Linked DNA regions of Homo sapiens. The protein of the gene in region 3 purifies or fractionates together with the protein of the main gene of each other region. This does not show direct contact. Each region holds a gene or a part of one and is shown on either strand. Other genes may lie near its edges. The genes, in order: WARS1, FBLN1, CDA, PPIL2, PYM1, RNF181 and MTMR6.

Region 1 (3,500 bases), on a different chromosome or scaffold from region 3:
GCCATGAAAATTATACTAACACGGCTGGGCATGGTGGCTCACACCTGTAATCGCAGCACTTTGGGAGGCTGAGGCGGGGAGGATCACTTGAGGTCAGGAGTTCAAGACCAGCCTGGCCAACATGGCAAAACCCATGAGTGAGACTCTGTCTCAAAAAAAAAAAAAAAAAAGAAAATTATGCTAATGATGACATCTATGTTCTTGTTTGATCCCATTTCATGGACACGGCTGCTATGACACACAGCCACTAAACCCAGGTGCCAGGATCTGGATCCCTGTCTATTTTCCTTCCTTCAAGGATGCCACAGGGCCTCCATGCTCACATGGCTGAACCAAGAGAAGTAATTTTAAAAGATCTAATAGGTGCTGGGCGTGGTGGCTCATGCCTGTAATCCCAGTGCTTTGGGAGGCCGAGGCAGGCAGATCATGAGGTCAGAAGATCGAGACCATCCTGGCTAACACAGTGAAACCCCGTCTCTACTAAAAATACAAAAAATTAGCCGGACATGGTGGCGGGCACCTGTAGTCCCAGCTACTTGGGAGGCTGAGGCAAGAGAATGGTGTGAACCTGAGAGGCGGAGCTTGCAGTGAGCCGAGATTGTGCCACTGCACTCCAGCCTGGGTGACAGAGCGAGACTCCGTCTCAAAAAAAAAAAGAAAAAGAAAAAGCTAACAGTTTTACTGGCTGATAGAAGGGCGAGATTTCCTATCAGGGTATACATTGCTCTCAATGGATATAAAACCACTACTCAGTTTCTTTCTTTTTTTTTTTTTTTTTTTTTGAGACAGAGTCTCACTCTGTTGCCCAGGCTGGAATGCAGTGGCATGATCTCGGCTCACTGCAACCTCCGCCTCCCAGGTTCAAGCGATTCTTCTGCCTCAGCCTCCCAAGTAGCTGCAACTACAGGAGCACGCCACCACACCCGGCTAATTTTTGTGTTTTTAGTAGAGATGGGGTTTCACCATATTGGCCAGGCTGGTCTCGAACTCCTGACCTCCTGACCTTGTGATCCACCCACCTCAGCCTCCCAAAGTGCTGGGATTACAGGCATGAGCCACCGCGCCTGGCTGCCACTACTCAGTTTTAAGGTCTTATAAGAGGGAACGTTCTGGGGATGCGGCTCTAAGCAAGTCCTCCTGTGCTCACTGCTCACCTGCCCCTTTAGTGTCCCTCTTATCCTGCCTCGGCATGGTCCCTGATGGTGAGCTAACATGGGAGGGCCTGCTCAGAGCCCAGCCTGGGCTGCAGGAGCATAGCAATGAACCCACTCCTCCTGGGGAATCACTTTAGGGGAGGAGTAACACGTCTTTGGGGAGTGGAGTAACATGCCTTAGGGGAGTACCATGCCTTAGGAGAGACCACGCCTTAGGGGAGTACTATGACTTAGAAGAGTATCTCACCTTAGGGGAGTACCACAACTCAGGTGCTCAAGAAATATTTGTTGAGCTAGATAGTATCCTTCTTGTGATGGTTGACCAAAGTCTTATTTTTCTAACACATTTCTTGGTAATCATTTGGGATGAAACTTGAAGGATTTTCAGAATGAAATATTTTGGTTTATTAAATGGCTGATTAAAAGAACTAGACTGAGGAAACTGTGTAACCACTGAGTCTTTTCTCTGTGAGGAAAAGGTGCGTTGAAAAGGAGGAAGACATAACTCTGGAAGACTGACTATCCTTGGCAAGAAACTGCAAGGCAGGACTTCCTGGCACAGCTGAGGATGAAGATCTGAGATGCCATCATGCTGTGGCTGAGCCCATATTTTAAATTTCTGTAAATGTAATTATGGAGACAATAATCGAGTCTTTAAGATACTGATATCACTTAATCCTTTCTATGTACATACACAGCTTTTCACTTTCAAAATTATTGGTAAATAAAACCAATAAACCAGCTCATAGCATTTTTTTTTCCTTTTTGAGATGGAGTCTCGCTCTGTTGCCCAGGCTGGAGTGCAATGGCGTGATCTCAACTCACTGTAACCTCCACCTCCCGGGTTCAAGCGATTCTCCTGCTTCAGCCACCTGAGTAGCTGGGCTTATAGGTGCGTGCCACCACACCCAACTAATTTTTGTATTTTCAATAGAGATGGGTTTCACCATGTTGGTCAGGCTGGTCTTGAACTCCTGACCTCGTGACCCGCCCACCTCGGCCTCCCAAAGTGCTGGGATTACAGGTGTGAGCCACCATGGCTGGCCACTCATAGCATTTAATAAAGGAAGAAGAACATTTACTAGGCCTTAAGACCATTTCAGTTGTTTCGAATTTAGCTGTGGTCATGACAACTTGACATCCTCCTCTACCTATTGAAAAGGCAGCCAGACGTTTTCTCCTTACCCCATGTAGTCCAGGTCAGAGAATATGAAAGTCTTGTTGATGTCAAAGCCACAGGCGATGATGTCCTTGGCATTCTCCACAGCATAGCTATAGGCCTGGTCCAGGGTCAGGTCCTTCCACAGATACTTCTCGTCATCCGTCATCTGGATGACCAAGGGCACGTTAAATACATCCTGGAGCCACCTAAAGAAACACAGGGGGAGAAAGCTGACGTCTCATCTCCCCTGTGGAGGAACGCCATCGTGCATCTGAAAACACAGCTCCTACTTACAACGTATGTTAAAACTTCCTTGCCTACAAAATCACAATTTGAATTGTGATATGAATTTGACTATGGATAATGATAAGGTCTACTACCATTTATCGACCAGGTGGCCCTGTGTGCTCTGTGTTAGCTGCTCTACACACTTTGTTTTGAAGCTTTACAGTAGTTCTATGAGGTAGGTATCTTCATTCTCATCTTGCAGATGTGGAAACTTAGGCTCAGAGAAGTAGCAGGCCCATGGCCATGCAGACAGGGAGCAGGATGAGAAGAGGAGCAGGCCTGGCTGACTCCAAAGCTGCGCTCTCCCCATCACTCCATGGTCCTCTAAAGTGAGCCCAGGAACAAAGTGAATGGAAGCCAAAAAAGTGCCAACTCTTGACATCTTGGTTGCTCAGCAAATGAACTAGCATGATCTTGTCAGTTCTAAACATGGTTTATAAGCAACATTCTCAATTCACTAAGAGAGTAAGAAAAGCCATAAGATCCAATACTTACTTTGTGAAAATAAATGGAATGAGGTGACCTACATGCATTGCTTCAGAAGAGGGGCCCCGGCCCGTGTACAGATAAAATGGCTTCTTATTTTCATAGGCATCAAGAACCTGATTCATATCTCTAAAGGAAAAAGGAGAAGAGGAAGAGTGTGATTTTCTGAGAAAAATATCAAGGCACTAATGCACTTTTGGAAATGGAAAATATAGACAGAGACGAAACAACATGGATAATAACTAGAATTTGTTACCTTTGGTGCTTATGATATAAATATAGACAGGAAACTTCTACTGAAATGGTTTCTCCTGTGAGTGTTTTAAAAGACAAGATGTGTAGGTTTGGAATAATGTGTTTAAAAGATGGATCCAGCTATGCAGTTACTGGGACTCCTGGAATCCCTCCAA
Region 2 (3,500 bases), on a different chromosome or scaffold from region 3:
TGAGCCCCCTCCTTACCTCTCAGCCATGCACCACCACCAAGACCTGAGATATGCGGCCCAAGGTCCCAGTGCATGTTGTAATTACCGCCGTGCACATTTATTAAAGAACAAGTCAGGAGTGGTTTGCTGCCTTCCCACCCTCACGCTTAAGGATGGGAAAAGTATATTAGAATTTCAGTTGGGGGCCAGGCACGGTGGCTCATGCCTGTAATCCCAGCAATTTGGGAGGCTGAAGCAAGAGGATCACTTGAGCCACGGAGTTCGAGACCAGCCTGGGCAACACAGCAAGGCCCCGTCTCTAATTTTTTAAAAATAAAAAATTAGCCAGGCATGGTGGTATACACCTATGGTCCCAACTACTTGGGAGGCTGAGGTGGGAGGATCACTTGAGCCTGGGAAGCTGAGGCTGCAGTGAGCAGTGATTGCACCATATCACTCCAGCCTGGGCAACAGAGCAAGACCGTGTCTCAAAAAAAAAAAAAAAAAAAAAAAAAAACCTCAGTTGGAGGGAAAACAGCAAACCACCCGCTTGCCTCCAAGGGTGGACATGGAAGGTTTGTCAGGTGAAGAAATCCCAGCAGGCTCTTCCCTGTGGATTTTGAAAGTCAGAGGCCGTGCTGCTGTGTCATGGCAAGACCAGGGGGTGCTTTCCCCCTCAGCAGGCAGGGGCGTCCGCACCTTCACAGGTGACTCCATCCACATCGCTGAGCTGGTAGCCTCGCCGGCAGTAACACTGGTAGGAGCCGTAGACGTTGGCACACTCCTGGCTACAGGGGCTGCTGCTGCACTCATTGATGTCTGAAATACAAAACGAGGGTCACCGCTCAGAGCATCATACGTCCCTGCCTCCACAGTAGCCCTCAGGGTCAGTGAACAGAAAATCTCCTCTCCACCTCCCTCAGGTTAACACACTCGGAGAGACAGAGGTCCCGGGGGGTGTGGCCGAGGGAGAGGCGTCATCGCTGGTGGCTCCGGACCCTCCATCCCTGCTCCTGCCTGCTTCGACCACAACTTCTCCTGCCAGGATGGCAGCGATCGCCTCCAGCCTTGGCCCCTGGAAGTCTGCCCCGACCTGGCTGCCAGAGTCCATTCTAGTTCTCAAATGGAAATCTGATCCTGTGCTCTCCACTTCACCTCCAAGATGGCATCCTAAACAGATGACGGCACACAAGGAAGTCCTCGGCCACCCAGCCCATACGCCAGTACTCCTCATACTCCAATGCACAGAACTCACTGGGCCACTCAGCAACTCTGAACTACTGCTCAACTGTCCCCTTTACCTAAAGCAGAGGTCAGCAAATCATAGTCTATGGGCCAAATTTGTCCCAACACTTGTTTTTATAAATAAAGTTTTATTAGAACACAGCCCGGCAAGGCATGGTGGCTCATGCCTGTAATTCCAGCACTTCGGGAGGCCGAGGTGGGCGGATCACGAGGTCAGGGGTTCGAGACCAGCCTGGCCAGCATGATGAAACCCATCTCTACTAAAAATACAAGAATTAGCCAGGCATGGTGGCACGCACCTGTAGTCACAACTTCTCGGGAGGCTGAAGCAGGAGAATTGCTTGAACAAGGAGGCAGAGGTTGCAGTGAGCCAAGATCACACCACTGCACTCCAGCCTGGGCGACAGAGCGAGACTCCGTCTCAAAATAATAATAACAATAAAATAAAGAATACAGCCACATTCACTCTTTTTTTTTTTGAGACAAAGTCTTTGTCTGTCGCCCAGGCTGGAGTACAAGTAGCTCAATCTCAGCTCACTGCAATCTCCACCTCCGGGAGGCTATTGTCCACTAAATGTGGACATGAATTCAAGCAGTTCTCCTGCCTCAGCCTCCTGAGTAGCTGGGGGATTACAGGTGTGCACCACCATGCCCGGCTAATTTTTGTATTTTTAGTAGACACAGGGTTTCACGATGTTGGCCATACTGGTCTCGAACTCCTGACCTCAAGTAATCCACCTGCCTCAGCCTCCCAAAGTGCTGGGATTACAGGTGTGAGCCACTGTGCCCTGCCACACTCATTCTTTTACCATGGTCCTCTGGCCACTTCTCTGCTACCACAGCAGAGTTCAGCGGTTGCAACAGAGATTGTGGCTGGAAAAGCCTTAAATCTATACTATGTGGCTGTCACAGAACGTCCAATAGCCTTCCACCCCGTGTTTCATCTCTGTGGCCCCCACACACCAGGCCTGGCCTCCACCTGTCCAGTGTGGTCTCTCATCCCCCGCTAGAGACACTCCCCAGTGCAGGACCGAGTTCTTGCTACACACCCGGGGCAGGACCCTAACAAATGGTTAGTAAGGTCACATAGCAAGGTTGGCCAGGCTCTGGTTCTATATCCACAATATTGTCCACTAATGTGGATATGAATGCCGACTTTTCAGCAATTTATGAATGACTAGAGGAAGCACAAGCCAGGAATCCCACTACTTCTACTAAATAATAATAAAGCCAGCAGCCTCCACACCGCCAGCTCTTCATCCTGTGCTTGGCCCTGTGATAAGCTCTTCACATGCTTAATCTCGTTTCATCCTCACAACCCCCTATGGGGTTGGTCCTACTATGCCCGTTTTACAGATGAGGACACCATGGCCCAGGAAAGACTGAGTTACTTCTTCAAGGCCATGGAAATGGCAGAAGTCAGGTTTGAACACAAGCCTGAGAGACTCAACTCGTGAATCTTGTTCCTTGTCCATACACGTTCTTGTGAACTAAGCCCAGGACCCCTCACACCGTCCGTCCTCCGATTTGAGAATCATGCACACCACAGCTCACTGTGGCATATCCAACCCCTGCGACCATCTCATCAGGAAGGAAAATTCTCATGGCAAAATGTTAGGACCTGCCATGTTTGAGTCAGGCTGCAGAAGCCGTCCTGTGAGCCAGTGCACGGCACCAAACAGGGTGTCATCGGCAATGTGGACGATTGTGGAGGGCCATCCAAAGCTCTCAGTGTCTGCTCAGCTCAGAACCTAATCCGTATACAAGACACGACATCTGCCAAGCACCTAGTATGTGCCAGGCCCTGGGCTGACATGCAGTTCATGTGACCTTCCCATCAGCCCAGGAGGTTGGTGTTATCTGAGAACCACAAGACTGTTGGCAGGAACAACTCTGTCCAACCCCCACATACCAAGAGACCTGACCCAACTTCAGCGTGGCTGCCATTGGCCCAAGACCAGGTATCCAGGATGTAGACCCAGCCCCCTTGACATGCCTGTCTGAGAAAGATCAATGCTGCCAAAAGAATTTTCTCTTGGTTCCAGCCCAAACCTGACTACAGGCGCTGACCTCCATGTTCCTTAGAAGCATCTACTTTAGAAAAACTTGCAAATGTAAACGGTTTCTCTGTCCCTTTGAGATGTGCAACCAAGGAGTGTCTTTCTCAAGGGCTGGGGACATGCCTGGGGAATGTCGTCATCCGGAAGGCCAGGGTGCTTCTCCCTGTCTCTGCGGGTGGGGAAAGCCTAACTCCAACACGAAGTTAGAGGCAGGCC
Region 3 (3,500 bases):
TATTTTTAGTAGACAGGGTTTCACCATATTGGCCAGGCTGATCTCAAACTCCTGACCTTGTGATCCGCCCGCTTTGGCCTCCCAAAGTGCTGGGATTATAGGCTTGAGCCACCATGCCCAGCCTCATCATGTGTTTTTATAGGCCAGGCTTGTGGCTTCTTTGGCGATCCAATTCTATCAAAAGTTGGAAACATCCTGATCTATTTGCTTCCAATTATTTCCATACAGAAATGCCACACCCAGAGATCCCTTCTGGACATGGTTCTGAAGCCTGCCAACTCTGGCATTTTCCTAACTGGCTCCCATGCCTGGCCCATTCCTGCTGCCCCATCTTAATGCTGGCTATTGTGGTGCCTGAAACAACAGGCTGTGTGGGCAGATGACACATCACATCTTTGCCACAGGGCTGATTCCCATTGCCAGGGAGAGAAATTTCAGTGGTGGGTACCACGGCCTGCCTTCCTGGTTATTGCAGGTGGAGCTTTACCAAATAACAGACTAGGAGGAGTCACCATCTGGCCATCTTGCCTCATCTGTGTTTTCTCCTTTGCGTTGCTCAACCACTAAGCCAATGTCACATACTTTAGATTTTTTTTGTTCAAGTTGCATCTCACCTTCAGCACAAATGTCTGTATTAGACATAGGTTATGCTACTATAACAAACAGATTCCAAGATGCAGTGATATAAACATGGTGGAATTCTCTTTTTCTCTCACACAACAATTCAGAGTAGGCCCCAGGCAAACGGGCAACTCTGCCCCATGAGTTGACCAGGTTTCCAAATTCCTTCTCTCTCCTTGCTGCTCCTCCATTCCCTTGGCCACGCAGTCAAAAGTGTCCCACCCCATCACCTCCACCTTCCAGTCTGTGGAAGGAGAAAAGAATGGAAGTAACAGGCAAGCAACCTCCTTACCAAAAGTATGATCCAGAAATTTCCCACATCACCTTGGGCCACATCCCATTGGCCAGAACTGCATCATGTGGCCACACTGTGCTGCAAGGGAGTCTGGGAATTACAGTCCCTAGCTGAGCGGCCATGCTGGAATGGGAGGCACTTGTATTACTTAAAGGAAGAAATAGGAAATGAATACTGGGGAACAACTCCTATCTCCGCCTCAGGGAAAAAGGCAATTTACAAACAGTGATACAGATGGAATACCACATCTTGCTGGTCAGGGGAAAACCCAGCTCCCATAGTGATTTGTTCGTAGACTCACTTCCCTGAATATGGGGACTTTCTTAGCCAATCTGGTTATGCCAACATCTTGCCTCCTAGGAGCAGCCTTGGCTTATTGTCCCCCAGCAACAACCCTGAGAGAGCCAACAGGAAGGACTCCCTTACTGAGAGCTGGGCCATCTTAGGAGCCCACATCCCACTGGAGGCCCGAGGATTGTTTTAAGTCTTGTGAAATCACAGGCAACTCGCACAAAGCTCGAGGTGTTTTTTTTGTTTGTTTGTTAATTGATTTCGTTGTTAGTTGGTTTTGACAGTGTGTTTGTTTTGCAACACAACTGACACAGAACCCTGGCTGAACTCTGACAGCCAGTACCTAACCCCCAAAATTTTGTCCAGGCTCAAACTTGGAATCAGGATCTGTCTTAGTCCATTCAGGCTGCTATAACAGAATACCATAGACTGGGTAGCTTGTAAATAACAGAAATGTATTGCTCACAGTTCTGGAGACTGGAAAGTCCAGGGTTCAAGGCACTGGCAGATTCAGTGAGGGCCTGCTTAGTCATAGACGGTGACTCCTTGCTATGTCCTCATGCGGCAGATGGGGCAAGGCAGTTCTCTGGTTTTATAAGTGCATGACTCCCATTCCTAGGCTTGGTCCCCTTCATTCCATTCTCATTATCTAATCATTCCTCCAAAGGCCCCACTTCCTAATACCATCACTTTGGGGGCTAGGATTTCAACATATGAATTTGATGGGACACATTCAGACCATGGGGCTCTTAGATCTCTTAGATGCAGGTGTGGGGGCTCTACTTATTTTTGTAAGCCTCGGGATCTACCCTGGCCTTGACCTCTGCAGGGGTGATGGAGCTGCCTAATCTGCCTGTTGTGCTGCCCTGCTCCCAGGCTGTGCTTCATCATGGAGGCATTGGGTAAATTAAGACAGTGCCAGGTTCTTGGGAAGGGCCACTACCATGGGCCAAAGAATCTACCAGTGCCCCAGGTCGAATTGCCCTAATTGCCCTGTCCTTCTCCCCACCTTGTTTGGAGTAACCAGTTCCTTCCTGCTTTGGAATGGGGCAAACTTCTTACTCAACACACGCAACAGGAAGTGTCTCTGCCAGACATACCACTGGACTCTGCTCTCTTCTCAGGGTGCAACATAGAAAATGCCTGCTACCCGCTGGGCATCTGTGCTGAACGGACCGCTATCCAGAAGGCCGTCTCAGAAGGGTACAAGGATTTCAGGGCAATTGCTATCGCCAGGTGAGTGGGAAAGCCAGGTTGCAACAATATTCATTCATCTCTTTAGCCAACATCTTCCTTACACATATTATTCATTCATTCATTCATCTGACATATGTTTATTGTGGACTTCCTATGTGCCAGGCACTGTACAGGGCCCTGGGATGAGTGCTGAGGATAAGGAGATAAATAAGAAATGGAGTTTGCCCTCAGTGAGCCTGCAAAGCAGGTAAATAAGCAAGGCAACTCTCATACAAGGGCCAGTATGCCCCTGTTCCAGCAACACAACGTGATACAGACTCCTGTCCTACAAGATATAACAGAAAGGCAGCATTGAAACATAAAGCGGGGGGAACCTGAGCCAGGCGCGGTGGCTCACGCCTGTAATCCCAGCACTTTGGGAGGCCAAGATGGGCAGATCACGAGGTCAGGAGATCGAAACCATCCTGGCTAACACAGTGAAACCCCGTCTCTACTAAAAATACAAAAAAATTAGCTGAGCGTGGTGGCGGATGCTTGTAGTCCCAGCTACTTGGGAGGCTGAGGCAGGAGAATGGTGTGAACCTGGGAGGCAGAGCTTGCAGTGAGCCGAGATGGCGCCACTGCACTCCAGCCTGGGCGACAGAGCAAGACTCCGTCTCAAAAAAAAAAAAAATTTTTTTTTGCTGATGGTGGCATGCCCATAGTCCCAGCTATTTGGGAGGCTGAGGCAGGAGGATCACTTGAGCCTGGGAGTTCGAGGCTGGAATGAGCCATGATTATGCCATTGCACTCCAGCCTGGGGGACAGAGTGAGACCCTGTCTCAAAAACAACACAAAACAAAAAAGCATTGAGAACAGTTTGGAAAGGTCTTCACCGGCAAGTAATTATCACAGTGTTGTACCATTGGATTCTCTTGGCTTACTTATAGGTTCTGTATTGTTTGAATAACAAAAAAGGAATACTGAAAGCTGGGTTTAGTGCAAGGCCAGTGGGGACTGCACAGAAGCAAGCCCACGTGCCTTTTATAAGATCCTACACTTTGCCTCAGTCTGGCCCCAAGGAGACCCAGCTTAATTTGTTTCTGAGTAAGTAAAG
Region 4 (3,500 bases), on a different chromosome or scaffold from region 3:
TCTATTTTTTTTTTTTTTTTAGTAGAGACTGGTTTCACCGTGTTAGCCAGAATGGTCTCCATCTCCTGACCTCGTGATCTGCCCGCCTTGGCCTCCCAAAGTGCTGGGATTATAGGCGTGAGCCACCTTGCCCGGCCGGTTTTTTTTGTTTTTTGTTTTGTTTGTTTTTGAGACAGAGTCTCCCCCGTCCCCCAGGCTGGAGTGTAGTGGTGCTGTCACAGCTCACTGCAGCCTCAACCTGCCTTCCTGCCTTAGTCTTTGGAGTAGCTGGGACCACAGGTGTGAGCTGTCACACCTGGCTAAGTTTTAAATTTTCTTGTAGAGACAGATTCTCGCTTTGTTGCCCCAGCTGTTCTCCAACGCCTGGACTCAAGCAATCTTCCTGCCTTGGCCTCCCAAACTGTTGGGATTATAGGTGTGAGCCACTGTGCCTGGTCTCCATGTCTGTTGTGTTTATCACTGTGTGGCTGACATATAGTAGGTGTTTTTTTGTTTGTTTGTTTTTTTGAGACAGAGTCTCACTCTGTCACCCAGGCTGGAGTACAGTGGTGTGATCTTGGCTGACTGCAACCTCCGCCTCCCGGGATCAAGCAATTCTCTGCTTCAGCCTCCCGAGTAGCTGGGATTACAGGCACCCACCACCATGCCCAGCTAATTTTTGTATTTTTAGTAGAGACGTGGTTTCACCATGTTGGCCAGGCTTGTCTTAAACTTCTGACCTCTAGTGATTCGCCTGCCTCGGGCTCCCAAAGTGTTGGGATTACAGGCGTTAGCCACCGTGCCCGCCCCATAGTAGGTATTTAGTAAGCATTTGCTGAGTAAGCAAAGATTACTCACTTCCAAAGACTTCGTCCTCTTTATAAAGGTGGTGGTGGTAGCATTATCTTCCTCTCTTCTTCAGGTACATTACCTGTGCTGAATACACTCACTTTTATGGTGGCAAGAAGCCAGGTAAGGCATGCAGTCTTTCTGTTCCCCGTTGGGGGAGTGGTATTAAGGAACTGTGTCTTCAGGATACAGTGAGCTGTAAAAATAGACAACAAGAACACGGAAACTATGGTAGACGAATGGGCTGAGGACACAGTTCATGAAAGAGAAATATACTCAAGATAGAAGAACCTGCTTCATCTTAGTGGTGATTTTTGTAAAATGTAATTTAAAATATTCCCCGATGCTGGGAGCTAAGTAAAAAATAAATAAGTAAATGAAATACAAAATTACATGTACATTTAAATGTTTTTTCTCTATCAAGTTTATAAGGAATAAAAAGAATGATAATATTTTCAGCTGTCAAAACTATCAAGACTACAATAACAAGAGCACTGTCATAATTTTAATGGAAGTAAAAAGTATGCACTTTTCCCAGTAAGTTCTTTTTTGATGTACCCCAAGTGTTTTGGTTTATCTGTTAAAAGGTTTTTAATCCACAGCAATTGCTGTACTTAAAAATTTGCATGAACTTTTTCATAAGCTGTAACTGAATTGCTAGCAGGTGCACATAGATGAAATACTTTACAGAGTAAGATTTCTGTTTTTTATTTCATTTTTAAACAGATCTCCCACAAACAAATTTTCGTCGTTTACCTTTTGACCACTGCAGGTAAGAGTTTTGCGAGTTTACCTTTCCCTTGTAATTGTTCTCTGATCCTGTCTGATAGTGAATCTGCCCCTTGTGGATGTGGGGTTATGCGTAAAAGTGTGCCTTGAAGATGTGGCCCTTCAGTTCATGTTGGGAGAAGATGCAGAGTCCTCGTCATGATGTTAGGAGCTTGCCTTGGTGTTGGATCCTGCTCTAGACCTTCACCAGGGGTGGCACAAACACTATTGTAGTTGGAGGAGAAGGTTGGTGAGAGAGGGAGGTGGCCAGGCTGCCCAGAGAGGGCTCCCTGGGACAGCATTTCAGGAGGTCACCATGCCAGTCTCAGCCAGCCCACATCCTGACCAGGGTGCGTGGCAACTCACCAGGAATGACTGTCCTTTTTCAGTCTCTCTCTGCAGCCCTTTGTCTACCCAGTCTGCACTCCCGATGGCATCGTCTTTGACTTACTGTGAGTTTTTCCTTGAATTTTGATCTAACAAATGTGAGATTCTCAACACCCATTAAGGAAGGGGACCCTTGGTACCCTTGGGTAGGGCTCTTGGGCACACAGAAGTAACAGCTAGGGCCTTGGGGACATGGCAGCAATGCTGCTGTGACCCTTGGGCAGGCAGCTCTAGTTGTCAGGTACTGCTGTCACTGCCTGGAATGGGGTAGACCACCCCCTACCCCTCCAAGTGCAGGCATGAGCCACTGCACCTGGCCTGAAAATGAATTTTTAGGAAATTTCAGCCTTATTTTAGAAAAAGAAAATTTTACCACAGTCCCACTATCCAAGATAACCACTGTAAATATGCTAATTTTTTGTGAACTTATTTGTAGTAACATGATTGAGATAACACTGTGAACACTGTGAAGTGTTGACAGGTAACACTCTGTGGATCTATTTATTCACTTGGTTGTGATGAGAGCTTTTTTCCCCGTGTGATTCAGAATTCTCTGAAAGTATAGTTTTTCTTTGTTCTTTTCTTTTTTTTTTATTTGAGACAGGGTCTCACTATGTTGCCCAGGCTGGTCTTGAACTCCTGCGCTGAAGCAGTCCTTCCACCTCAGCCTCCTGAGTAGCTGAGATTTCAGGCACACACCATCACCATGCCTGGCTTGAAAGTATAGTTTTTGATGCTAGCTTAGTATTTAATTATACAGATGTATCAACATTTATGACGGAGTGGTGGCTTATGTCTGTAGTCCCAGCACTTTGGGAGGCTGAGGCAGGAGGATCTCTTGAACCCAGGAGTTTGAGACCAGCCTGGGCAACATGGTGAGAACCTGTGTCTACAAAAAAGTGCAAAAATTAGCCAGCCATGGTGGTGTGCACCTGTAGTCCCAGCTACTTGGAAGCTGAGGTGGGAGGATCGCTTGAGCCCAGGGGTTGGAGGCTGCAGTGAGCCATGACTGAAACACTGCACTCCAGCCTGAGTGACAAGGCGAAACCTTGTCTCAAAGAAAAAAAACCCAAACCATTTACTTACTCATTTTCACCTGTAGTTTTTGTTGTTTATACATAACTACAGTAATAACTCTGAACATATTTTGAAACCTATGTATCCACAAATATCCCCCAACTTCCTGAGACAAGATGAGGAGCTCTTCCTCTCCTAAAGTGAAGCAAGACCCCTTCACAGGCCTCTAACCTGGAAGCAGCCCTGCAAGACCACAGTGTTGTTACCAGGTGGCGCCTAAGCACCCTGGTGATGCTTTCTGTTCTGTCTTCCCTTCAGGAACATTGTTCCATGGCTTAAGAAGTACGGGACCAACCCCAGCAATGGAGAGGTAGGTGGCTGTGCAGGAGTTTCAGTGATGCTAGTGAATGCTATCCTCTCACTTCTCCTTTTGTTCTGGTGGTTTTCATGAACACAGGAACATGGGAGAGAACCGTTCATGGGGCCCAGTGAGGAGGGAC
Region 5 (2,982 bases), on a different chromosome or scaffold from region 3:
CAGGAGAATTGCTTGAACCCGGGAGGCAGAGGTTGCAGTGAGCTGAAACCGCGCCACTACACTCCAGCCTGGCAGACAGAGCGAGACTCCATCTCACAAAAAAAGAAAAAGAAAAAAATATATATCGGCTGGGCACAGTAACTCATGCCTAAAATCCCAGCACTTTAGGAGGCCAAGGTGGGTTGATCACCTGAAATTAGGAGTTCAAGACCAGCCTGGCCAACATGGTGAAACCCCATCTCTACTAAAAAATTAGCCAGGTGTGGTGGTGGGCACCTGTAATCACAGCTACTCGGGAGGGAGGCTGAGGCAGGAGAACTGCGTGAACTCAGGAGACAGAGTTTGCAGTGAGCCCAGATTACGTCACTGCACTCCAACCTGGGCAACAGCACAAAACTCTGTCTCGAAAAGAAAAGAAATCACTCCCAATACTTGTCTTCCTGTGCCAAACTCAGGAGATACAATATCTACTAGGAGCTGAAAATAAGGAGGCAAAGCCAGACATGTCTACTTGTGTTTATTCTCATTTTTGCTTTTTTTAAAAAAAAAAAAAAAATGAGGGATGGAGAGGGAAATAACCCATAAACACCGCGAACAGGAACCAAGACTCCAAGACTTGGGCATACTCCCTCTACCCTCAGCCTCAGTTCTCCAAGAGATTCCCACCCACCTGATTTTCTTTTAAACAAGACACCCAAATCAGCAGCAAAGGTACCTGGGGTAGTCACTGAGATTTTGAACACTGGGAATGGGAGGGGGAAAGTCCAAAAAGTAGAAGTTGGGAAGAAAAGGGAAGGATTGAGGGAGACGCTAGGCTCTGGAGGACAGAGCTGGGCCGCAGGAGGTGGAAGTAAGCCAGTATGGGGGGTACCCCTCCTGACTGCTGTTGCCCGTATTCCCCCAGACCCCAGAGAGCCCCACGGTTTGTTCTGCAGTCCATTCCCTATTCCCCAAAGGCCTCAGAGGCCTAACTCCAAGTCCTCTAACTCCTCTTCTAGCGCCCTCCTCCTTGCTAGCTTTTCTAGCTGCTCTTTGCTAGGCTGGCTGACTTCCCCAGCCTGGATCCGCTGCTGCAGCTCTTCCACCTGCCGGAGTTTCTTCTTTAGGTTCTTTATCTTCTTGGCTTTCTCAGTGGTGGCAGCTGAGTCAGGCTGGTCAGATGCAGCTGTGGGGGCTGCCCGAGAGCCCTGTGGAGCACTGGGGAGTTGGGCTGTCTCTTCCAGGGACACCTTATCAAGAGTCCTGCTCAAGGCCTCTGCCTCTCCTTTCTCTTGCTGCTGCCGCCTCTTCTCCTTTCGCTTCAGGTTACGTTTGGCTGTCTTGGAGAGGCCTGGTTCACCACCTTCAGGCCTGGATGGGGTGACAGGAGCAGTGGCCTCAGGGCTTAGCCCTGGGGGCAACTCTGGTTTACTCTTGAAAAACTTCACATACTTGTTTTCATATCTGCAGGAAACAAAGGATGTCAAGAGTTTCAGAGAATTACTGACTTTTTGATCCCTTTTCTTAAACTTCCAAACACTTCATCCTCATTACATTCTTGCTTCCTTTTTTTGTTGTTGTTTTTGTGGGGTTGTTTGTTTTTTGAGATAGAGTCTCGCTCAGTTGCCCAGGCTGGAGTGTAATGGCGCAATCTCAGCTCACTGCAACCTCCACCTCCAGGGTTCAAGCAATTCTCCTGCCTCAGCCTCCCGGGTAGCTGGGATTACAGGCGCCTGCCACCACGCCTGGCTAACTGTGTATTTTTAGTAGAGATGGGGTTTCACCATGTTGGTCAGGCTGGTCTTCAACTCCTGACCTCAGGTGATCCACCGATCTTGGCCTCCCAAAGTGCTTGGGATTACAGAGAGCCACTGCGCCTGCCTGTTTGTTTTTGAGACAGAGTCTCGCTCTGTCGCCAGGGCTGAAGTGCACTGGCGCAATCTCAGCTCACTGCAACCTCCCACTTCCCGGGTTCAAGAGATTCTCCTGCCTCAGCCTCCTGAGTAGCTGGGATTACAGGCTCGTGCCACCACGCCTGGCTGATGTTTGTATTTTGTAATTTTGTATTTTTAGTACAGACGGGGTTTCACCACTTTGGGGAGGCTGTTCTTGAACTCCTGACCTCAAGTAATCCACCTGCCTAGGCCTCCCAAAGTGCTCAGATTACAGATGTAGGCCACTGGGCCTGACCACCTTTCTCTCTTTATGGTCCCTCCCCAACTTTCCTCTGCTCTGCAGGAAAGATGCAGCGAAGTCCCTAGAACCTAAAGCTCTGGAGGTTCTAATGAACAGAGGTCAAAAGTATAGGACTAGTGATCTGTAACCCTCACTCATCCCTGAATCCCAGACTCTTTCTCTCCTTTCTCAGATAGTTGCCCCTCCTTCCATTTCCTTGGGGCTTAGGAGAGTCCTCCCTGAACTTGTAGGCATAAGGATATTCTATCCTTCTGTAGGGACCCCATCAGAAAACCCCTACGCAAAGCCTAACCACGTACACTGGGACCTCCTCCTGGGGCACATATCCTTCTTTCACCCTCCGCTGCTTGCGCCAGGTCCCGTCAGGTCGCTGTGTTGACGCGATATACTTGCCTAAAATAAGAAAAATCAAGTTGAAAATTACTCTTATTTTCAAACATTTTACAAGATGAGACAAGAATGTATAAATGTACATACCATCTCTCAGCACCCATTCATCCAAATGCAACCATTAGGCTCCTTTTCTCATACCAACACTCAATCCCTCTCTCATTATTTATTTACCGAGTGCCAATACACCGTACAAGAAACCATCCTTGCCCTCAAGAAGATTCTATTTGTAGGTAAGACAGGATAGGCACAGAGGAAGAATTTTGTTAAAAAACCAAGGCAATAGCATGGGAACATGAAAGGCAGTAAATGAACAAGAGGCTAAAAAGACACAAAAACCACGGGGAGGAGAAATGACAATAGCGGATGTTGTAAAGGAGAAATTTTATTTAGATGGAACTTAAAAAAATAGGTCAA
Region 6 (3,656 bases), on a different chromosome or scaffold from region 3:
CAGGGTCAAGTGTGTAAAATAAGCAGTTCCTTGCTGGGTAAAGTGAGCGCTACTGACAGAAACCAGAATAAGCCTGAGTTGTGTGGAGCTTCACCCCTTACAGAGCGTGTTAGTTTTACTGAGCGCATTAGCGTCTTCCTCTCTTGGGAAAGATGGAGGAAAGCACTTGGCCCTGCAGCTGGTCTGCAACACCACTTACAGACTGCAAATTTGGGCAAGCCACTTCTGAGGTAAAAAGGGCATAATGACGCTTAGCTCCTGGGTCTATTGAGGGGATGATCGAGCGTGTAAAACATACATCAGACTAACAGTTCTAGATGCTAAATAGTACCTATCATCCAAATCATTGAGTGCAGTGGTTCTTAAACCTGCTTCACCTGCATAATTTATACAAGTGCCATTGCCCAGGCCCCACCACAGATCAGTTAAATCAGAATCTTCGAAGGTATCAGACACGGGTGTTTCTAAAGCTCCTCCGCGCCCATTCTCTCCTCTGGGAATTCATGTGTAGCCAGGAATGAAAAGGTCTTAGTACAAGCCAGCAGTTTTACAGAAGCTAGGGATAGCAACGGGCTGAAGGTAACAGTCCCATGAGCTGGTTGAGGCCCCAGGTTCTCCGGCAAAGAGATCTCTCTCAGTTGGGGAGGCTTGCCCCACCCTTTATTATTATGCCTAACACATAAGAAATGCGCAGGAATCAAACGCAAACTGGTGAACCAACTAGAGGGCCGCGGGGGCAGAAGTGTCCGGCGGGGATCCGGACAGCGCATCCGGAAGCGCCATGGGCCAACGCTCGCAGGAACCTGAACCCCTGGGCCAGCGCCGCCTTTGCTCGCAGAGGCCTCTAGCATCTGTACTGTCGAAGCCCTCTGAGCTTCAGGGCAGACTGAAGAGCCTTACACACCAGACACTTGGACGCGATCGCGCCAGAAATCCCCGGGAATTCAGTCTTGGCTCCGACTCCAAAACAAATGATTCCTCACCAGCCAGATCTCCATCATTGGCGTTAGTCTCTGGTCACCTGACTTGTTCAAGCCAATGAGAGGGGGCCGAATTAGTACTTCCGCTTTCCGTGCTGTTTAACGAGCCACTATGCCCGTCCCTCGGATACTCTGATTGGCCAGCCTCTCTCAGCTCGTCAGTTTATTGGCCAGCGCCGCTAGGCCGCTATCGAGCAGGGTCCGAGGGCTGTGTCAGAAGGCTGGGCAGCCATGGCGTCCTATTTCGATGAACACGACTGCGAGCCGTCGGACCCTGAGCAGGAGACGCGAACCAACATGCTGCTGGAGCTCGCAAGGTGGGTGCGCGGGGCTTGGGGATAGGGTCCAACCAGCAGGTTTCTGGGCTGGGGCTGGCTGGAGAAGGCGGATTACCAGGGGCAGCGGATTCTGGGGAGGACAGATGAGTAATCTGGAGTGTTAGTACGGGCGGCGAGACTGAGGGGTGTGGGGATGAGCATCTCGATAATTTGGGCCGTCCGTTGGGCCGGCCTGGGGCAAGGGGATTGCGGGAAAGATTGGAGCTGGAGAGTGGTGGGCGTGGGGGCGGAAGGACAGCAGGCTCTGGGAGGTCTCAGAGAAGGTGAGGCATGGGGGCGGGGTTGGGGCCGTGTGCTGTGAGTGGGTATATTCATCAGTAACAGCAGGCACTGCTGTTACTGGACCTGGAATCTGGCTTGGTCTTGGAATCTGGGCTCTACCAGGTTATTCAGCGTAGCCTGAGTAACTTCTCTGAATCTGTTGCCTCATGTGTAAAATGGGAATAAACACTTTACGTGCTGGGGCGGTCTGATAGCAGTTGTAAACTATTTCCCATCGTGCTTTTTATCTAGTGAGCATCTACTAACTACTAAGGGTAGCTATTATTCCTACTAGCTGGGCAGCGTGTTTATTAATGTCCAGTGGATTATGGGGACAAAGAAAAAGCATAGTTTTCCTTTGTTCTGACTTTACATCCCCTTCCCCAGGTCACTTTTCAATAGGATGGACTTTGAAGACTTGGGGTTGGTAGTAGATTGGGACCACCACCTGCCTCCACCAGCTGCCAAGACTGTGGTTGAGAACCTCCCCAGGACAGTCATCAGAGGCTCTCAGGCTGGTGAGGACACTGATTCTTTCTGCTATTTGGGCCAGACCCACCCCTTCCCCAAGCCAGACTGTGGTCTGGTCCTTCAGTTTTCCAGGTCAGGTGGGGGCAAGTGTCCTTCAGGAGTGGGAGCTTGGGAGGCAGAGCCTGTAGCAGCTCTCCTGATCAGCACTCCTTCCTAAAGAGCTCAAGTGCCCCGTGTGTCTTTTGGAATTTGAGGAGGAGGAGACTGCCATTGAGATGCCTTGCCATCACCTTTTCCATTCCAGCTGCATTCTGCCCTGGCTAAGCAAGGTACTGCTTCTCTTCTTCTAGCTCTCACCGTGCCCTGGGCCCAGTACTCAAGCTTCTTTCTGTTCATGGACTGCTGGGGGATGGAAGAAGAGTGGCAGTTGGGAGCAGGGGAGGGTGGTTATCAGCTTATGAAGATCAGACCAAGGCTAGAACACTACTCTACTTTTCTCAGACAAATTCCTGTCCCTTGTGCCGCTATGAGCTGCCCACTGATGACGACACTTATGAGGAGCACAGACGAGATAAGGTAGGGGCTGATGCTTAAGTGGAGGGGTCGTAATGGGCTCCCTGAGTCCTGTCCCCGCTGCCATCACTTCCCACCTCAGCAGGACTGGGTAGGCCTCAGAATCCCTGGCTCTGGCTGTCTTCTTAGTGACTTTGATTTGTGGTGAGAGCCTCAGCAATGCAGACGCCAGAGGCCTGAAAACAGAGCCAGCCCCATAATAGCTGCCCATCCCCTCACCCATAGGCCTTCAGTTTTGGCCCCTGCCCAGCATGCCTTCTTTCCTTCAGGCTCGAAAACAGCAGCAGCAACACCGACTGGAGAACCTCCATGGAGCCATGTACACGTGAGGAGGTTGGGGCTGAGTGCTGGCCCTCTGCGTCTTCCTTATTAACCTTGAATCCTCATTAAAGGTTTCTTTACCCACCCTGAGGCTGTATTGATCACAGACCTGGCCAGGGGCTCTGCATCCTCCATCAGGTCTCTACTTCTGTTGGGGAAGGTGATCCTAAATCGCAGAAGGCACCAGGCTGCGGTTTTCCTCCCTGCTGGCCCATCTGGACTCATGGCAGTGGTAAAGAACTGGATTACTGCAATAGCCAGGGCTTGGGCCTATGTGTTCATGGTTGGAAGGCAAAATGTGTCAGGGTCTGGTACCCAGTTAATTACTTAAAGCTGATAAACTAGGCTGGGTGCAGTGGCTCATGTCTGTAATGCCAGCAGTTTGGGAGGCCAAGACAGGTGGATCACGAGGTCAGGAGTTCGAGACCTTCCTGACCAACATGGTGAAACCCCGTTTCTACTAAAAATACAAACATTAGCTGGGCATGGTGGCACGCACCTGTAATCCCAGCTACTTGGGAGGCTGAGGCAGGAGAATTGCTTGAACCTGGGAGGCAGAAGTTGCAGTGAGCTGAGATCATGCCATTGCACTCTAGCCTGGGCAACAAGAGCAAAACTCCGTCTCAAAAAAAAAAAAAAAAAAAGCTGATAAACTAGCCTGCACCCTCCTCCCACTGCAATGTCTAGTTAACTTTGTAATCCCACAGGTTTT
Region 7 (3,767 bases), on a different chromosome or scaffold from region 3:
ACAACAAAATTAGCCCGGTGTGGTGGTGCATGCCTGTTATCCCAGCTACTCCGGAGGCTGAGGCAGGAGAATCACTTGAACCCAGAGGCGGAGGTTGTGGTGAGACAAGATTGTGCCACTTTAACTCTGTCCTGGGAAACAAGAGTGAAACTCCGTCTCAAAAAAAAAAAAAAAAAAAAAAAAAAAAGAATAATTCGGCATCCCTTTAAGAACAAACAAGATGTTTACTGACCATGATGGGTGGTTTACAGCAGTGTTTCTCAAAGTATGATTCCCCAACCATTTGCATCACAATATCCAAAATATTGCTAAGTGCAAACAATTTATTGGTATGCAAATGATTTTAACTCCAGAGTCCCAACCCCTAACTACTGAATCAGAAACTGAACACCAGGGCTATAGAGTCTACTACTAGCTTCTGAAAGTTCCTTTCAGTTATGCAGGCCACTATTTTATAAAAGTTGCCATTTAAATGGATATTTTACTTTCCTAGAAATAACTAGAGTAGCACAAATACTGTTTATTAAAATGTCAAGGTTTCATGTTTACATTTTCTTATATCAAGTACAATGGTATATATACTTTTTTTTGAGATAATTATTCTAGATTCCAGGCTTTCTTCTAGATGTAAGTTCCTAAAGCTTATAGTTTACATTGATATCTAGACATATATCTTAAACAGTCTCCAAATTTTCTTTAATTAATCAAAGTATGTTAATGTCACTTGGAATTCTACATGGAAAAGCCAACAAAATAACTAAAACTTGACTAATGAAGATCAGCGTCACTAATAAAAGTCTGCAACTGTAGTATTAGGTTGGTGCAAAAGTAATTGCGGTTTTTGTCATCACTTTCAATGGCAAAAGCCCCAATTACTTTTGCAGCAACTATATAGTTTTATAAATGATCAGCATTTAATCCAACTTAGCATGTCAACTGGAAATTTTTCAATATTTTAAAGCTGACCTTCTGCAAAAAATGTTTCAAAACAGGCTTGACTGACACCACCTCCCTGCTCTGCTACCCGACCAAATAAATTGAATTTGTTTTAAAAGAGTTCCCTTCATCTTTACTCAAGATTCCCTGAGCTACTTCTAGCCTAGCTGACCTTTTCAAAACACCCTCAATAAAATTATCCTCTTGTCAGCCAGTTATTTTCTTCCTCATATTTACATCCAGATCTGCCTTTGGAGAGACATTTCACCTCGAATGTTTGTACTCAATGGACCCTGCCTTCCATCAAGTTGGCAAGGGCACAAAAAAATAGTGATTGTAATATAAGCAAGTGACAGGAACAAAATGAAAACTTAATGACATTATTACCTACATCTGATGGGCCTTTTAGCCCACTATACCTATTTTAAATATTCTGGAAATTATTTTTGTATGAAACAGGTATTATTTATCAACAAACTTTTGGAAAATAAACTCCTCAAACCTTATGCTGTTATGTTAATGTAATGGGCAAGTCTACTTGCCTAGGTGAGAAGAAAAAAAAAACAACTACAACTTGATTCCATTTGTTTTATCCAGAAGAAAAACATTCAAAGTAAAATGTGAACATTTAATTACCTTTAAATCATATATGAAGTAATTTACATGCTATACACTTCCAAACACACTGAACATAAATTCAACTTTATAAGACATATACACAGTCTGCTTTTGCCAACATATACCCTGTAGGTCACTTAAGATGTAACTGATTTCTCAGTCCACCTGTGAGCATATAAACACACAAATATATGTCTGAAGTTGAAGATTAAGATAATAAACCAGAGTTGAATACAAGAAGTCAGCCACAGAAGATTCTAAAACCACAATCAGTGACTGGAACACCAAGGCACAAAAACTTCCCTTTGTAGTCACAGAGATTAAGTTTCCATTCCCAGTGCTTAAATATGGAAGCAGGATTGGTTAATCACATACTATATTTTATAGTGCATTTCTGTTGCTGTTTAAAAAGGAATATTTTTTAAATTACATAATGTATTACAGAAAAGCATTGGAAAAATAAACAGGATAAGATAAGCTCTCATACAATAAAGTTTTTTTTGGTCTGAAAAAGATGTTTATATTCAAAACTAATATAATAGAGGTGTAACAGAAAGTAGCATGAGGAACACTATGCAAATTGCCTAATACTCGAATTGTACTTCATGCCACCATGTTATTTAAATTTTCAATTTTAAAGCCAGTTGGGTGATATTGCTAATTCCAAGTGATAGTTTTGGGGTTTTTATGTTTTGTTTCTTGTTTTTTGGTAATTTAAAGATATGTACTAGTACACAGAATAAACAGTAAATATAACATGGCAAAATGAAATCTTTCCCAGAGTTTATGTTGCTTTTGTTAAACAGTAACTTTGTACTAGAATCTCTTTTTTTTTCTATATTTAACAAGAAGAAAAATAATGCTCCACATAGAAATGACTTCAAAATTCATGCAACCATGCACAACCTAAACTATCTGTACTTCCCTTTTTTATTTACCCAAAAGTTTTTGAGTAAACTGAAAGTTAGATACTCCAGGAACAGCAACTCATTGAGCAATAAGGCAGTTTAAAAATATACATATACATGTACTATTCATTGTTTCTCAGAACAGTTTTAGAGCTTTAGCTCTTTAAACTTACACAGTTGTGAAAGAAATAAAGCCAACCACAAAATAAGAATCAATGGAATGCAGTAATCCATATATAAAAGACAGTCAAATGTGCTTATACGTATTCAAGAAATCAATATTCTAAGCTGTAAATAATAAATTATCAAATGTAGCACTAAACAAATTATGATCAGAATAAACCTTCAGTTTCATTAATTTTGAATACAAAAGTGGGGCAGGCTAAACGTGAACAGTGTACTTCTACAAGTGTTTATATAGAAGTATTGTAGCATGCACCCCCAGCAGTAATGAGAGCACAATTCTTTACAAACAAAACAAGGCTGACCAGAAGAAAAACAAAACAAAAAATCTTGTTGTAGGCTGTAAAACTTAAGGGTAAAGAATCCACTGGGAATTTAAGGCTTTCTTAGAAATATTTTTCATGGCACTTTAACATTAAATATCACTAAAAGGCAAAATATGTAAATATTCATAGTTACAAAGCTACATAATTGAAAGTACATGCCATATCATTTATTAAGAAACTATGTTGTCAAATTTTGTTTTCTTGAAGTTAAATTGTACTTAAGGAAGGTTATTTATGTTTGGCTGAATTAACATAAATCATAAACGTCAATTCACTAGTGTACAGTGCAAATTGTGTTTTGAGTAAATACATCAAATACCACTCATTTCTTACAGAACTGAATGTCATTCCTTGCTGGAAATGCAATTAAAATGACTTATTTCTCTCACAAGGGTAGTTATTATCCTTCCTTCAACTATTAGCCTACTGTTAAACCCTAAAATTGTTATTAGACAAATTCCTTTTGGTTATGCTTACAGACCATCCTCACAATAATCCTTTTCTTGTACTGCAATCATTGCAGAAAAAACTCTATGAGTCTAACAAGTCATTCTTGCCACACCATACTCTAAGCTGACCACAGCAGGTTCTGATTTAGAAAACTCTTCTGCATATTCACTATAACGATTATCTGCCGGGCTGCTGCCCTCTATAGTTCGAAGAGCATCATTTACGGGTAGCAGAGTCTGCTCTTTAAAACACAGGGAAGTTTTGAGGTTAGGTGATTCAGGATGAACTGAATGTAACAATTCCTTGGTGAGGATGCCATCTGTTTGCTTATTTTTGCGTTGTTTAA

Evidence for each region.
Region 1: the proteins of CDA (region 3) and WARS1 fractionate together in Homo sapiens (co-fractionation; one large-scale study listed by BioGRID). This does not show direct contact.
Region 2: the proteins of CDA (region 3) and FBLN1 purify together in Homo sapiens (co-immunoprecipitation; one large-scale study listed by IntAct). This does not show direct contact.
Region 4: the proteins of CDA (region 3) and PPIL2 purify together in Homo sapiens (co-immunoprecipitation; one large-scale study listed by IntAct). This does not show direct contact.
Region 5: the proteins of CDA (region 3) and PYM1 purify together in Homo sapiens (affinity purification with mass spectrometry; 2 studies listed by BioGRID and IntAct, with this or other methods). This does not show direct contact.
Region 6: the proteins of CDA (region 3) and RNF181 purify together in Homo sapiens (affinity purification with mass spectrometry; 2 studies listed by BioGRID and IntAct, with this or other methods). This does not show direct contact.
Region 7: the proteins of CDA (region 3) and MTMR6 purify together in Homo sapiens (co-immunoprecipitation; 3 studies listed by BioGRID and IntAct, with this or other methods). This does not show direct contact.

The regions. Positions count from the first base shown.
Region 1 is NC_000014.9:100,351,348-100,354,847, forward strand, and holds part of WARS1 (tryptophan--tRNA ligase, cytoplasmic), read right to left. Parts: intron 3,220-3,500; coding exon 3,100-3,219; intron 2,523-3,099; coding exon 2,340-2,522; intron 1-2,339. UniProt on the Homo sapiens protein: Catalyzes the attachment of tryptophan to tRNA(Trp) in a two-step reaction: tryptophan is first activated by ATP to form Trp-AMP and then transferred to the acceptor end of the tRNA(Trp).
Region 2 is NC_000022.11:45,544,383-45,547,882, reverse strand, and holds part of FBLN1 (fibulin-1 isoform D precursor), read right to left. Parts: intron 799-3,500; coding exon 679-798; intron 1-678. UniProt on the Homo sapiens protein: Incorporated into fibronectin-containing matrix fibers. May play a role in cell adhesion and migration along protein fibers within the extracellular matrix (ECM).
Region 3 is NC_000001.11:20,602,597-20,606,096, forward strand, and holds part of CDA (cytidine deaminase), read left to right. Parts: intron 1-2,331; coding exon 2,332-2,443; intron 2,444-3,500. UniProt on the Homo sapiens protein: This enzyme scavenges exogenous and endogenous cytidine and 2'-deoxycytidine for UMP synthesis.
Region 4 is NC_000022.11:21,669,012-21,672,511, forward strand, and holds part of PPIL2 (RING-type E3 ubiquitin-protein ligase PPIL2), read left to right. Parts: intron 1-901; coding exon 902-951; intron 952-1,287; exon of another isoform or gene 1,288-1,365; intron 1,366-1,554; coding exon 1,555-1,600; intron 1,601-1,985; coding exon 1,986-2,048; intron 2,049-3,318; coding exon 3,319-3,370; intron 3,371-3,500. UniProt on the Homo sapiens protein: Has a ubiquitin-protein ligase activity acting as an E3 ubiquitin protein ligase or as an ubiquitin-ubiquitin ligase promoting elongation of ubiquitin chains on substrates.
Region 5 is NC_000012.12:55,900,913-55,903,894, forward strand, and holds the end of PYM1 (partner of Y14 and mago), read right to left. Parts: intron 2,569-2,982; coding exon 2,475-2,568; intron 1,444-2,474; coding exon 960-1,443; 3' UTR 501-959; downstream 1-500. UniProt on the Homo sapiens protein: Key regulator of the exon junction complex (EJC), a multiprotein complex that associates immediately upstream of the exon-exon junction on mRNAs and serves as a positional landmark for the intron exon structure of genes and directs post-transcriptional processes in the cytoplasm such as mRNA export, nonsense-mediated mRNA decay (NMD) or translation.
Region 6 is NC_000002.12:85,594,553-85,598,208, forward strand, and holds RNF181 (E3 ubiquitin-protein ligase RNF181), read left to right. Parts: upstream 1-1,192; 5' UTR 1,193-1,211; coding exon 1,212-1,297; intron 1,298-1,966; coding exon 1,967-2,097; intron 2,098-2,269; coding exon 2,270-2,379; intron 2,380-2,400; coding exon of another isoform or gene 2,401-2,551; coding exon 2,552-2,626; intron 2,627-2,892; coding exon 2,893-2,952; coding exon of another isoform or gene 2,953-3,013; 3' UTR 3,014-3,156; downstream 3,157-3,656.
Region 7 is NC_000013.11:25,245,722-25,249,488, forward strand, and holds the end of MTMR6 (phosphatidylinositol-3,5-bisphosphate 3-phosphatase MTMR6), read right to left. Parts: coding exon 3,511-3,767; 3' UTR 501-3,510; downstream 1-500. UniProt on the Homo sapiens protein: Lipid phosphatase that specifically dephosphorylates the D-3 position of phosphatidylinositol 3-phosphate and phosphatidylinositol 3,5-bisphosphate, generating phosphatidylinositol and phosphatidylinositol 5-phosphate.